Linked DNA regions of Homo sapiens: region 1 is linked to region 2. The links come from fine-mapping of genetic effects on gene expression. A gene starts in region 2. The other region holds a variant in brackets. All regions are shown on one strand. Distances are between the middles of the regions.

The links. PIP is the estimated chance that this variant, and not a neighbour inherited with it, causes the effect. A credible set is the group of variants that fine-mapping cannot tell apart.
Region 1: its variant is the best candidate, but not a certain one, in a credible set for the expression of PACC1 in whole blood (INTERVAL, PIP 0.72).

The regions. Positions count from the first base shown.
Region 1 is chr1:212,553,511-212,556,422 of GRCh38, forward strand. It overlaps LINC01740 (long intergenic non-protein coding RNA 1740), which reads left to right. Exons shown (of 3, transcript NR_125985.1): 2 at 902-938; 3 at 2,333-2,556. Among named protein-coding and RNA genes, the nearest start is that of LINC01740, 9.3 kb to the left of the region's middle. The variant C/T (reference allele first, on the strand shown) is at 1,368.
Region 2 is chr1:212,413,207-212,416,118 of GRCh38, forward strand. It overlaps PACC1 (proton activated chloride channel 1), which reads right to left and starts at 1,680. Exons shown (of 8, transcript NM_018252.3): 1 at 1,516-1,680. The coding sequence starts at 1,551. RefSeq lists a silencer at 1,332-1,391.

The DNA of each region.
Region 1 (2,912 bases), 140 kb after region 2:
TCAGATGAAGCCTCTCAAGGTCTCTCTGGCATGCCCCACCCCTCTCCGCACTCTCTCCCAGAGCACAAGGCCAATCTGTTCTCTGAAGTTCCCTGATCTGCCTAAAGTTTGGGTCCACCAAAGAAGAAAACAATTACCTGTGGTCCCTTCCCTGAGTTTTCAGTAACTGAACTCATATCACAGGAAGAAAAACTGAAGTTTGTCAACAAATTTGGACAGACTTTTGTCACAAACCATTGTCTGCTCTGCGGGCCCAACAGACTTTGTCTCAGGCCATTGTATGTTCCTCACGCCTACTGAATTCCCCAAAATTCATTTACTACTACCCTAAAATCATCCACACTTCCCCATCTCCCTTTCTCCTAAGAAGAAGGGTATATACAAGCATCTGTGTCCCATTGCATGGTGGCGTAATCACTCTATGATAGTTCCCCTATGCATGCTAATAAGTTTGTATGCTTTTTCTCCCATTAATCTGCCTTTTGTAAGTTGATTTTCTCCTTATGAAAAGAGAAATATTAAGCTAATTGGGCTTACTTGGTATATTAAATTATACGGGAAGCATTGCCAAATAAGAAGTAAGGCTAAACCTTCTTTGGATTATATTTGTATGAATGTGTTATTAACATATTTCAGAAATTGTGTGAAATTCATAGAAATTTGATAGTTCTGGAATAACATTATCAGTCATAATTCTGGTTACTATCTTAAAATGTTGCATGCAACAGAAATAACCAAATTCCCTTCTCAATTGTGTTATCATCGTAATGAACTCTCATCAGATCTTTAACTATGAACATTTGAAGTCTTGTTATTCTCAGCTGGCAATTGTTTACTGTGGTCTATCTTTTTTCTTTCTCCCCTGTTTCCTTATGTCCTAATTACTTCCTTTTCCTTGCAGGAAAATCCATGGAACCATAATCTATGGATGGCTTTAGGTAAGGCTTATGCTCTAGCAAAAAACCAGAGCAACTGTTAGGCTTATGAAGATAAGCTAGTTTCCACTGAGGAATGATTCCAATGGGGTTCTTGAGGGCTCACTCTTGGCAGTAGTAGTGTATCAGTCATATGGAATTTGAAACCAATCCATAAATTGGGGAAAAATCCTGGACTTTGTGGCTAACCAGAACTCCCAGAGGTTCAAACGGGCAGAAGTCATCCTTTGAGAAAGGTGGATGATGGCATATATACTTTTTTTTTTTTTTTCTGAGATGGAGTCACCCAGGCTGGAGTACAGTGGGGCAATCTCGGCTCACTGCAACCTCTGCCTCCTGGGTTTAAGCAATTCTCTGCCTCAGCCTCCCGACTAGCTGGGATTACAGGCGCGTGCCATCACGCCCGGCTAATTTTTGTATTTTTAGTAGAGA[C/T]GGGGTTTCATCATTTCGGCCAGGCTGGTCTTGAAGTCCTGACCTCGTGATCCACCCGCCTTGGCCTCCCAAAATGCTGGGATTACAGGCATGAGCCACTGCGCCCAGACAGCATATGTTTTAAGAAAAAACATTTACTGGAACATCATGTGGACTTAGAGCTTCTTTTCGCCCAAATTGGAGGCTTGTATATAGTATTGACAAAACTGAATATTGTGCCTGTCTGTCCCCTAATTTTGTTACTAGAGGAAGCTTAACTAAAAACAAAGGTGAAACTGCTGTTTCTTTAGACACTGCCATCAAATACATGAAGGAAATTTCTTAAGGGAAAGGAACACATGCTGTGTCCATGGCAGCAGCTAACAGTTGGTTTGCAGGAATCCTGAGTGGTGGATGGCAAGCTTGGCTTTTCCAGGGTTTTCTAATCTATGTTCTTCTAGTGGGTCTCCAGGTTACTAAGGCTTGTGTTATCAAGTTAATGACAAAATTGGATACTTATTTAAATCAGATCATTCTATAGCAAGCTGTGGTCCTTAATTTCCATCACACTTTGAATAAGGATTATGGCCAAATGGACTCAAATACTGTTAAGCTGCCTATATTACTTACCTAAGCTTTGACTTGTTTGATTTGGATCAATTTGGTCCCTCAGGGCTCCTGTTAAGGAATACGCTTCATTTTTTGGTGTTATCCTAAATACCAAATCCTATCTAACAGTCATCATGATAGTCCCCTGCTGTGCTGTATCCTCTCAAGTCTTAAATGTTAGTATGCAGCCATCCATTGAGCACTGAATGATCTCACTTTGACTAAATCAGCAAGAACATAATTATTCGACTGATGTGATAACTTGTGAATTCCATATTGAGACCAAGTAAGTCCATTTATGATGGTGACAGACAGTGGCATGAATCAGACATGTTTTTAGAAAGTTTTATTAATTTTATTTAAAATTTTATTTTCAGGAATGGGATTGACTGCAAAGGAGCACAAGGGAACTTCCTGGGGTGATGGAAATGTTTTGTCTTGATTGTGGTAATGATTACATGACTATGTTTGTCAAAATTCCAGAACTTTATACCTAAAAGGGTGAATTTTACTGCATGTAAATTATACCTAAACACATGACTTTTTAAAAAGGCCTGAAATCTTAACTACTCAGCTAAAAATAAAATAAAATAAAATAAACAATTTAGGTGCAAAACAAGTTTTGTTTTTGGGACTGACAGAGGTCCAGTGATTGTATTTATTTATAAAGCTAATAATCCAATCCAATATATCAATATCAATACTTTTAAATAGGATATAAAAAGTTATGAGATTTTTTAAAATAAGGATTTAGACTGCAAAATATTATGACTACAATGTTCCTGAAGCAACACTATCTTAAAAAATATCTCAAACAGAAAATAACACTCTAATGCTCTCAATCATTGCAATAATTGAAACTTCCAGAATATTACCATAATGCTGCTTATATTACATACCCAAAGCCCTGTATTTAATAGTTAAAAACAAAGAATTATTTAATACCAGCTAGCTTCA
Region 2 (2,912 bases):
GGGAGGAGAAATATAGAAATCTGTCCAAGGCCAGATTCCAGCCAAGATCCTACACTAAAAAATGGCAAGCCTTAGGCAAATCTCATCTGCCTTCAAGTTGGCTTCTCCCTCCACTGTAGGGCTAAGCCACCTGCTTTATATAGTCCACAAAGCCCTTCTGTGAATCAGTCTTTTACAAAGGGAGATATGTACAGCAGTAACTATTGACTAAGACAGAAGGCAGCAAGTTCATTATGAGAAGGACAGACAGAAATGCAGACGGGTCTGGAAAGCGGACCCCTATGGAACACATGGAACTTGAGGTAGCCCTTGACTTCTGGGGGCATTTTACCCAATGGAGCTTGGCGGAGCGTTGATGAAGGAATGGAGTGAGCACACGCACAGAGGCAGGAGCACATTTTAAAACTGAGTTTCCACTGTGCCAGACCCTAGGTGGGTTAGGAGGTGGCAAAGGTAATGGGAGACATGGCTGCTGTGCTGTTCAGAGCTTTGGGAGCCTGCTGAGAAGTCTGGACTGTTCTGGGCAGACGAAGGGCAGCGTCAGGTCTGAGAAAAAAGGAATGCTCCGAGGTGAAGGCAGGGCCTCAAGGCAAATCTGGAGAGTATAAGAGACTAAAGGGAGCGATGGTAACACAGTATCGCACTCAGAGGTTACAGCAAACACAGGGACACAAACTGGAGGAGGACCGACCTGGAACTGCCTGACTTTGGCCAATGAGGCGGCACGATGGAGGGGCACAGAAGAGGACGGTTGCCAAAGATGACCAAGGTTTGGGGGCCGAGAAGTGGAGGCGGAGGAGGAGAGCAGTTTCACTAATACAGCTGGAGAAGTGAGGAGGCAGGGCTTGCTTGAAGGAAGCGCTGGACGCACAGCCTGCAGCGCAGGACAGAGAAGAGACAAAGAACTGGAAAGTGATAAAGTCGTGGGAGGAGGTGAGACTGGAGGGAGAGACGAAGAGGAGCGAGAACTAGCAGAGTCCATGAAGGCACTTTTTCAAAGTTAGGTGGTCACCAAAAAACAGGTAATCAATCCTGTCACCAGCCGCGGGGACAGCGAGGCCTTGGGCTTGGAGGGGGAGGATGCCGACGATGCCGACCGCGCATCAGATCTCGCCGGGAGGAGGGCGCGGGCGCTCCACTTGTTGCAAAGAACGCCGGGTTCCTCTGGGCCATTGGGCTGCCGCTCCGGCGGGGAGCGCGGAAGGCTGGGCCTCAGGTAGCTTCAATCATTCACCTGCTGGTTACGGGTCGCGGCGCCGGGGACCCTACTCCGGACCTCGGCCATGCAACCCGCAGCATACGGAGAACGCTGGGCGCCCGCTCCGCTGCCCCGCTTCCTTCCTGCCCCTGGGCCGCTCCTCTGCACCCCGGGAGCCCTCCCCTGACGCACCCGTCGGTCCCTCGGAAGAGCCCTCTGCCGCGCAGCCCCGACACCCCCCGCCCCGCATCCGCCCAGGCCCCCGGGACCCTGCTCCTCCGCCTCAAACTTCCCTTCCGTCTCTCACAACCTCGTACCTCCTGGTAGGATGTGGAGCGCTCCTGCCGGATCATGGCACTGACCAGAGCTTCGGCACACCTGAGACCGCCCCAGCCCGCGGCGCACGGACGCAGCACTGCGGCCGCTGCACCTGGACCTACCGGCTCCGCGAGGCGAAACCGGTCCGGAGGGGCGTCCCAGAGACCAGGCGTGGCGATACTCGGCGCATGCGCCTGGCCGCTGCCGCCCAGGAGTCGCGAAAGTGTTGATGGGAAATGTAGTTCTGGGCGGGGGCGCCCCTCACACCAGCTCTCACCCCTGTGGCGGAGGCCTGCATGTGACCCTGGGCCAGCTAAGCTGGTCCTTAGACGCGTGCCTCTGCGTCTCTCACTTCCTCTCTTTGTTGGAGGGGGAGGGACGGAGAAGAGGAGTGGAAAGTGGAACAAAGTCAGATGAGTAGGAGCCCCTAATCTATAATTGCAAGAGGAAGCTTGGCCTGGCGGTTTAAAACGGTAATAAATGTCTGGAGAGCACTTTGTATGTTAGTTACAAAGCGCTCTCACTCACATTATGCCGTTGATTCTGCAAGGAACCCTGTAAGAAGGACATTTTTCTCCCTAATTTACAAATGAGGAAACTGAGGTACTTTGTTTCAGAAAGGATGCGGGTGGAGCGGTAATCAAATGAAGATTATTTCATCCAGGGGTAGACTGCGGAGCCCATGTTCTCTCCATTATTCCAGGGGCAGGAGTACCCCTAGGTTCTTGTCCTGGCTCTGACCCTCCCCTTTAGGTCTTGCAATGCTCTGAGCCCTCCTCTCCTCGCCTTAGAATGCAACTGCTAAACCCTGCCCTGCCTGACAAGGCCTATGAAAGCAGAAAGGAAGGATCGTGCAGAGAAAGCCTAAAGCCGCTGTTCAGCCACAGAAGAAGCCTCAAGCGCTAGATGTGGCGTCAAATCTGGTGTTGGCCCTGTGGCAGGGTGGACCTGAAGACCACATCTTCCTCTCCTCCCACTGCCTGAAACAGCTGTTGTGTGAGGGCCCTCGGCTCCTCAGTGGTGAAGCAGATAGAGGCTGCTTGTTGTGCCTTGGTGAATGCTGCTCTGTGTCCCTTGCAGCTGCAGCTTGGTAACCCCTCCACTCAGGCCACTGGGAGCCTCTTCTCTCCTCAGTGATAAGCAGAATAGTGCCAGCCACATCAAAGAACCCTGGACCTCCTGGAGCATTAGCAATGGGAGGTCCCCATCACCTCTCCTGACCACTCACCCCTATCCTAGGCCCTCTGCTCTTAAATCTGTTATATGGGACAATATATATAGTGCCTAACACATTGTAGGCACTCGACAAATGTTTGTTAAATTTATGAATGGAACACTGATTCCAGCCATTTCATTTAACAGTTGCTTACCAAAACAAATTAACAATAGCAGACCA